2 separate regions of the Homo sapiens genome follow, and region 1 is linked to region 2. The links come from fine-mapping of genetic effects on gene expression. A gene starts in region 2. The other region holds a variant in brackets. All regions are shown on one strand. Distances are from middle to middle.

Region 1 (4,352 bases), 110 kb after region 2:
TCTTATCGAGAGGCCAGGCACACACAGCTGTCTTGGTCTTCCTTCTTCCCTTCCCTACTCCCCCAGAATCAGTAAGGCAAAATGGTCTACACATTGTTTATATAACAATGATTTGCACCCAGAGTCTACACAGAACTTGATGTTTTACAAAGGTGTTAAAAATATATATCTATTGAGGTGGGTGGATCACCTGAGGTCAAGAGTTCAAGACCAGCCTGGCCAACATGACAAAACTTTGTCTCTACTAAAAATACAAAAATTAGCCAGGCATGGTGACACATGCCTGTAATCCCAGCTACTTGGGAGGCTGAGGCAGGAGAATCACTTGAACCCGGGAGGCGGAGGTTGCAGTAAGCCAAGATCGTGACACAGCACTCCAGCCTGGGTGACAGAGCAAGACTCCATCACAAAACAAAACAAAACAAAACAAAACAAAACAAAACAAAACAAAACTATATATATATACCTATTATCTCATGTAAGCCTTACTATCCTCCTATACATTGCATTTCAGCTTCCTGATTGCGATGACTATGGCTATTACATAACAAGTATTGACAAACAGCACAACCTTCATCCCTCCCTGCACCCCTGAGCCTGTCTCCACACCTCTCCCCACCCTTGCCTCTTACCATCAAGGATGTCTGTTACTCACATCACTTGGTAATGAAAACTGGCTCATGTGCTGCCACGGCTGTTAGATGTGGCCATATGAAAAGCGAGCAAGCACGTCAAAATTGGTGCAGGAGATTCGCCATCGCTAGGACCAGGCCCTTTCTGATGCCAAGTCTAGTACTTCTTTCCTTTTTAATACAACAGACTTGAACTCAGGTCCTGTGACCTCTGGTTTAGCCAGGCATGAGGCTCTGCATGGGTGAGGGTCAGCGTTAAGCACATGTACACATTGCATGAATGTGAATGGTTCCTCCCATTCTCTCTCTCTCTCTGTCTCTCTCTCTCTCTCATTTCGGAAATAGAGGAGACCGATTATAAACCGCTAAACCGCATCTGGCCCATGGAGTCCAAAATACTGGCCACAACAGATGAGAAGGGAGGAAAATCAAGGCCTTGCTGCTGATTAAACCTAACCGTCTCTAATTGTTTGTTAAGCCAGGGATTTTCAGCTTCACCAATTCTCTGAGCTTCTCTCCCTGGGCTGAGTCCTGGCCTTGGCTGCTCCCGTGGAGCCCCAGCAAAACCCCACTGCTTTTCAGCCTTCACTGGGGGGCCTCCGTCTGCAGGGAAACATGAAGCAAGAGGGAGCTGGGCTAGACTTCAGGAAGATCTCCTGCCTGTGGGTGTGGCATCTTCTCATGCGGGATGTCAAAAGACAGATGAGGACTTGGGACTCTGGAGTCCCCCACCATCTCCCTCGTGTGGGCCCCTCACACACAGTGGCCACCCCTACAGCACTGGGGCCCCATCACTGGAGACCTTAAGCAGAGGCTGAGGAGTGCCTATCAAGGGGCTAGGGACAGATTACCCTTGACCTCCATCAAATTCGGCTTTCAAGAAGACTGGGCCCACAGGCATTGGGAGACCTGGGTTCCAACATCAACTGTATCTCCTTAGACCTGTTTCTTCCCCTTTCTTAGCATCTGTACAATGATAGGATTTTGGTTTTCTTTTTAAGCTATGAGAACCCTCTCTTCCAACGACTTCTTATGTGGATGCTCATTACCAAAAGCAGGGAAAAGTGAGACTGCTCTGGTTTGAAGCGTGGTCGGGCCAGACCCCTGCCTGCTTGTCTCCCCTTCGATGCCACTGTAGCTCCCTGAATCCCACTAGGCATGGTTTAAAAGCCACAGCAGTGGACAGTCTCCTGACCCTCCCTACTCCACTGTTCCTGCCCTATGATCTGGGCAGGGGAAGCCCTGTTACCCAGTGCTAAGTTGTGCAGAGCTCCTAACCCAAAAGGGTTGATGGCTGCACTTTAGCCAAAAAAGGAGCCCCAGGGCAGGGGGATTGGGGAAGCATCTCCATGGATACCACACAAAGCTGGTGTTATGTCAAAGCACATAATCCACAAAGGCATAATCCACAAACTGGATCCTCACAAGAGAGGGGTTAATCTAGAAAGCAGAGTCTACAAAGGGGAAAACAGACAAAGTGAGTCATCTAC[A/G]GAGTGGGTAATCTCAGCAAATTAATCCACCAATTGAATAATCCACAAACAGGATCATCTACTGAGTGATCTACAAAGCTATAATAGATAGAGTGGAACTCTGCAAGGGTCATCATGGAATAAAACTCCTGAAGACCCCTAGTTCCTGGGTGGCCCCCTCCCATTCCCAAGGCCAGCTGTGGCCCACCATGCTCCATTACTCACTCCGCCTCTGCCTTTTCCCCTTGATCCCCCGGCTGCTGATGGTGAGGTGCGTCCAGCTCAGAACCAGGGCCACCACACACAGCCCAAGCCGCATAGTCACGCGCCAGCTCCAGGCCCCTGGTCGGAGGGGTGGTCTCGGGGAGGGTGGATAGCACACGGCTCTTGCTAACACCTCTGGGGCTGGGTCAGCAGCAGGAGGCCCAGGCCTGGGCCGTAGCCCAAATCCACCATAATCTCAGCTGGGGACAGAGAGGGTGTGGGGAGCCCAGTTCTCCATCAGCTCAAAGGGAGGTCCTCAAAGAGAGACTTCCTCAAAGATACCTCGGAATATCATATGAGAGATCTTTTTGTCACGTCAGCAGGGACTACTCCAAAAACCAACCTGTCAGGGAAGGAGAAAGAAGGGTTAATTCTGTAGTACCATGAACACTCCCACTTATGCCTCCTGCCCTACCCAGAAGACTGGGAGCTCAAAATGTTTGGACATTACAAGTTACCTACCTAGCACCTTTCTAGAAGAAATCTGCTCCTTTTCCTGTCTTACAGAATTCCCTAACCTGGGACCGGAGCCGGCAACCTGTGTAGCCAGAATATGGCAGACATTCAAACCAAACTTGTGGATCACTGATGATTTCTCAATAACGGGAGCCAGCTGGTCCCACCCCTGCTTCATGTTGTCCAGCTCTAACTGGAAGTCCTTCCTTAAGTCTACCCTACAGACCTCATGCTGCAGTAGTATCCTGTCTCTTGAAGAGGAGCTCTCTCTCTCTCTCTGTCCTTGCATGAGTGACCCCTCAGCCTTTTCTTCCCGGGGCTGAGTCACCCATGTGCCTTTCACCTGTCCTGGAGTTAGAGCAGTGGCCCCCGGCAAGCTGGCAGACCCTGCCTGGCCCTCTGGGCTTGGCGGGAGAAAAGGAAGTAAGGCTTCCCCCGGCCACAGAAACTCTGACACAGCAGGCCCGGCGGGCCTGGCCTTTGTGAGAGGATAAAAGAGGCAGCAATGCCCGCCCTGGCCAGAGACACAGAGAATGGGGATAATCCCCCAGCCCAGCGAGAGCCAGGTCTCTGGACCCGCTGGCCGGCTGGGGTGATGGGGGCAGGGGAGCCGGTCCCTCCCCTGATCAGATGTGTCTGGGAAGTTGGACATCTGAGCCCAACCTGGGAGTGAGAATGAAAACCCTGCTTCCCCGTCACGGGATCACACACATGCTCTGATGCTCTCAAGGTTCTTCCACAGCAGCGGCCTGCCCACGCACACCCCACACTCCCCCACACACACCCACACCACAACAGAGCATGCAGGCCAATAGCACAGAGTCTCTGTAGATGCCAGGGAGCCATCACCTTCCCCTCCAGTGGCTAGATGCCTTCGAACAAGTCATGTAGCCTCACTGAACCTGTTTCACATCTATAAAATGGGGACAAGCATGACTATGTCACAGGCTAGCTGAGAGTCAGAGAGTTCAGGCTCAGGAATGAGAAATCTGAGGTGCTGGAGTGGAGGTGCCCCTCCCACCCCCTGTCCTAATCCTTTCCCCTCTAGGCTCTTCAGTGCCAGTCCACCCCCTCGCCTGTCAGGGAGGCCCCAGCAGAGCCCACCTGCACGGGAGATAAATCATTATCCCCTAAGGGAGTTCAGTACCTCCCTCCTTGGCCTCTCCCGCTGGCTTTGAAGGCCAGACACACTCAAGTGGTTAAGCTGCCTGTGAGAAGTGTTTACATGAGGCTGATGGATCCCACCTGGTGCTGTGGCCTGAGCCAGAGGAGATGCCCCCAGCTACCCCCAAATGCCCGTCAGCTGCCAACCCCTGCACGCCCCTCCAGTACTCCCTGCCTGATTTACCAAAGCCTTTCTATCCTCCCCAGCCCCCACTACACAATTCTCTCACCCACAGATTATAGATGTCCAGTTGAGTTTATCAAACTGGGGTCTTCTGGCCCAAGTCTGTAGTCTCAGAGGCTGGCTGTACAGCATGATAGTCACGGGCATAAACTTCAGAGTCAGACTGCCTGGATTTGAATATTG
Region 2 (4,383 bases):
TGCACTCCAGCCTGGACAACAGCGTGAGACCCTGTCTCTTAGAAAAAAGAAAAGTGGCCAGGCGTGGTGGCTCACACCTGTAATCCCAACACTTTGGGAGGCCAAGGCAGCAGATCACCTGAGGTCAGGAGTTCGAGACCAGCCAGGCCAACATGGAGAAACCTCGTCTCTACTAAAAATAAAAAAATTAGCCAGGCATGGTGGCACGCACCTGTAATCCCAGCTACTCAGGAGGAAAAAGAAAAAAAGAAAAGAAAAATACTGTGAGGGTAGAACTCATGACTGATTAAAATGTGTAAAAAATTTAATAGAATGCTATTGTATAAAGATACTGTATTTAAGCCTCACACAACCCTGTGCCATAGGCCCAACTTTCGCTATTTTACAGATGTGAGCCTTGTCTAAGATTATTCGGTGAGGCAGTGCCTGAGCCAGAGTCCAAGAGTTCAAGTCCAGATCACACCACTACTTTACTACTGCCTCCAGCAAAGTTGCCACTAAGAGCATACAGTCCTAAAAACAAACGTTACTAGGGCACAATAGGAACACTACAGGCTTTCGACACTCACTTTTGGTTGGTCAGATACCGATCCCAGCCACGAATAATATTGCCATACATCTGAGTGTCTTCCAGGTAGCTTCCCTCAAAAGCATAGATCTGTCGCTCCAAATTTGCCAATGTTTCCTGAGAGATGAAAAACAAGGACATGAATGATACCTTTTAAATGCAAACACTTAAGTCTGGCCAAAATGAAATCCTGATATTAGACTCGTAAACGCAAGCTTGCCCACACTAAACCACCCTGTGGAGAGATGGAAGATACGGGGAGGAGGAGCCGTTTAGGACTAAGACAGTCTAGACCTTTGGGGGTGATGGACCCCTGAATGTATAAAGCATGTCTCCAGAAAAATACACACACACGCGAAATTTTGCATATACTTTAGAGGATTCACGGAAACCATGAGTCAAGAGCCCAGGCTAACGCAGAACTTGGGCGATGTCCACTCCCACGCACAAAAGGTATCGCTACCAGGAGAGGGAAAGGTGAGCAGCCTTTCAGCGTCAACTCGCTCCCCTCCCCGCAGGCTCAAGAGAGGCCGCCGACACCGGGCTGCCAGTTGCTATGGAAACCTAGAAGGGCAGCTTCAGGTGAGAGGGGCCTCCCGGGTGCCCAAGCCGAGACGCGGGGGCAGGAAGAGCTTAGCCACCAGAGTGCATTGGGCCTTGGGTGCCTGTCACAATTCTGAATTCTCCGGAATGTGTTCTTCTCCCTCGCCTGTCACCTTCTAGATGTTCCCAAACACATCACAACCCTGTCTATCAAAAACCTCCATTCAACGGATCTACTCCCAGTACCAAAAAGAACACGCTCCCCACCAGCCTCCAAAGTCCAGACGGGGTGACTGGGTCCCCCTCCCACACTAGCCTCCTTCCCCACCCCCTCCCCGCAAAGATCACGGACTAGCCCGCCTCGCCCACCCCCGCGGCTCACTGACGCTCGCCCTTCCTAGCGCCCTCTCCCCGGGCCCCGGCACCGTCCTCCCTCCACGCCCCCTCCTGCGGCTGCCGCTTCCCCTCCCCCTCCCGCGCTCCCGGCTCTCTCCCGGCTCCGGATTCGCACAGCCGGGAAGCTGAACCGCCGGCGGGCCGCAGAATGCGCACCCGGCCTCAGGCCGCCGAGCACCCGGCCCGCCGCGCCGCGCCCCCGGAGTAACAAACGGCCTAGCGCGGCCGGGCTTGGGGCCTGGAGGCGGGGCGGGCGCGGAGCCCCATGCCGTGCAACCCCTGTCCTAGCCCCTCACCGCCAGCTCCTGCTTCCGCTTCACGAGCTCCGCCAGCTCCCGCCGGGTGTCCGGGATCTGCGGCGGCGCCGCCTTGTTGTGCATCGCCATGTTGGGCTGAGGCGGGCGGCGGCGGCGCGAGGTTGGGGGCGGTCCCTGCGCCGCCAGGGGGCGCCCCCCCGCTCTGCGCCTGCGCGCGCGGCTTCCGGAGACGCGTGCAGCGCCGTGCCGAGCTTCGCTAAGGCCGGGGCTCTCGAAGGTCCTTCTCGGAGAGCTCTAGAGATGCGGCTTCTGCTTTCTGCCGTTTCCTGCCCCTCGGCTGGCCGCCGGCTTTACAGACGCCACAAATCCACCGCGTCCAAAGCCTAGCTCGTCCTCAGGCCTCCGAGTCTCCTGTGCGCCCCGCTTCAGTCCACTTCAGTGAATGACTTTCACTATCCACCGAATTGCCTGCGTCAGAAACGCGGTTTTCCTCACTCTGCACCTGGAGTAAAACGCGATCCCAGGTCAAGCTCTATGGACTCGACTCCGGAAGAGCTCGCGAATCCATTTGCTTGTGCCTGCGCCTTCTGCCACCTCACTAGTTCATTCAGGCCCTCCCTGTTTGGGGCTACATTATTCCAGCGGCTTATTTCCACCTTTAGCCCCACTTAATCCACTATCCACAGTGGTGCCAGGATCTTCCAGAAACAAATGTTATCACTCCCCGGTTTAAAGTCTTTCAGTGGCTTCCCATTTTCCCAGTGCCCTTTGGAGAAACAAGTATGTGTAGTGGTTAAGGGCACAAAACTGGAGCGAGAACTACCTTGTTCAAAATCCTATCGCTACATCGATAAAGTGTGCTCCTTTGGGCAAATAACCAAATCTCAACTCCCTCATCTGTAAAATACAAGCAGTAATAGAATCTACCTAATACATTTGCTGTGAGGAGTAAATCACCTAATATGTGTAAGGGGTTTGGCAGGCGCCAATGACTGTGCAAGTACGAGTTCGCTTTTATCGTTAAGTCCAAGGTGTAAACGTTGTTTTCACTTGGCCCCTGTGGATTTCTCCGTCCTCAGCTCTCCATCTTTCACTGTTCTGCAGTTTCGCTATCATAAGTCTAAGTGGGATATTTTTTCTTCCTTTTGTTTTGTTTCTTGCTTGGAAGTCTTTGGATTTCTATAATATGTGGGTTGGTATCTTCCACCAGTTTTGGGAAATCGCAGTCATTTTTCTTCAGATGCCTGTCTCATTTCTCTCTCCTTCTGGAACTCGAACATAAGAAGCTTTTTAACCTACCGTCTATATTTTCCATCTTTTTGTCCCTCTGTGCTGCATTCTGAATAACTGGTTTCGTGTGCGGATCTTGTAACCTGCCATCTTGCTGAACTCCCTTACTAATTTTAGGGGGGGTTGTATAGATTCCTTGGAATTTTTACATAGATAATAATTTCATCTGCAAATAAATAGGGAGTTTTTTTTTTTCTAAGCTGAGTGCTTTTTCTTTTTCTTCCTTATTGTGCAGATTTCCAGTAGTCTGTTAAATAAAAGTGATAACATTAGACATCCTTGCCTTGTTCCCTGTTTTAAGGGGAATGCAGGCCGGGCGCGGTGGCTCACGCCTGTAATCCCAGCACTTTGGGAGGCCGAGGCGGGTGAATCACAAGGTCGGGAGATCAAGACCATCCTGGCTAACACAGTGAAACCTCGTCTTTATTAAAAAATACAAAAAAAATTAGCCGGGCGTGGTGGTGGGCGCCTGTAGTCGCAGCTACTCGGAAGGCTGAGGCAGGAGAATGGCGTGAACCCGGGAGGCGGAGCTTGCAGTGAGCCAAGATCCCGCCACTGCACTCCAGCCTGGGCAAGAGCGAGACTCCGTCTCAAAAAAAAAAAGGGGGGGTGGCGAATGCATTCAGTCTCTCACCATTAAGTATGACATTAGTTGTGGGAGTTTTGTAGATGCTGTTTTTCAAGGTGAGGAAGTACCTCTATATTCCTAGTGTAAACCAAAAAACAAACAAGTAAAAAAACTTTTAAGCCACTGGGTGCGGTGGCTAAATCCCACCACTTTGGGAGGCCGAGGCGGGCGGATCACGAGGTCAGGAGTTCAAGACCAGCCTGACCAACATGGTGAAACCCCATCTCTACTAAAAATACAAAAAATTAGCCAGGTGTGGTGGTGTGCGCCTATAATCCCGTCTACTCAGGAGGCTGAGGCAGGAGAATCGCTTGAACCGGGGAGGCAGAGGATACAGTGAGCCGAGATCGCCACTGCACTCCAGCCTGGGTGAGAGAGTGAGACTCTGTCTCAAAAACAAAACAAAACAAAACAAAAAGCTGGCTGGGCGAGGTGGCTCACGCCTATAATCCCAGCATTTTGGGAGGCCAAGACAGGTGGATCACCTGAGGTCAGGAGTTGGAGACCAGCCTGACTAACATGGTGAAACCCCGTCTCTACTAACAATATAAAAAATTAGCCGGGCGTGGTGACAGGCACCTGTAATCCCTGTACTCAGGAGGCTGAGGCATGAAAATAGCTTGAACCCGGGAAGTGGAGGTTGCAGTGAGCCGAGATTGCGCCATTGCACTCCAGCCTGGGCAACAAGAGTGAAACTCCAT

Direction of the effects. Positions count from the first base shown, and alleles are read on the strand shown. Sizes are in standard deviations (SD) of each study's normalised expression.
For the expression in spleen of the gene that starts at base 1,913 in region 2, allele G in region 1 goes with a lower level than allele A (moderate effect, 0.70 SD a copy in GTEx).

Evidence for each region. PIP is the estimated chance that this variant, and not a neighbour inherited with it, causes the effect. A credible set is the group of variants that fine-mapping cannot tell apart.
Region 1: its variant is the best candidate, but not a certain one, in a credible set for the expression of MEAF6 in spleen (GTEx, PIP 0.56).

The regions. Positions count from the first base shown.
Region 1 is chr1:37,627,242-37,631,593 of GRCh38, forward strand. RSPO1 (R-spondin 1) reads right to left here. Exons shown (of 7, transcript NM_001242908.2): 3 at 2,327-2,708. The coding sequence starts at 2,420. Among named protein-coding and RNA genes, the nearest start is that of RSPO1, 5.5 kb to the right of the region's middle. RefSeq lists enhancers at 3,349-3,518, 3,420-3,933. The variant A/G (reference allele first, on the strand shown) is at 2,123.
Region 2 is chr1:37,512,854-37,517,236 of GRCh38, forward strand. MEAF6 (MYST/Esa1 associated factor 6) reads right to left here and starts at 1,913. Exons shown (of 7, transcript NM_001270875.3): 1 at 1,804-1,913; 2 at 570-685. The coding sequence starts at 1,893. RefSeq lists a silencer at 1,498-2,097.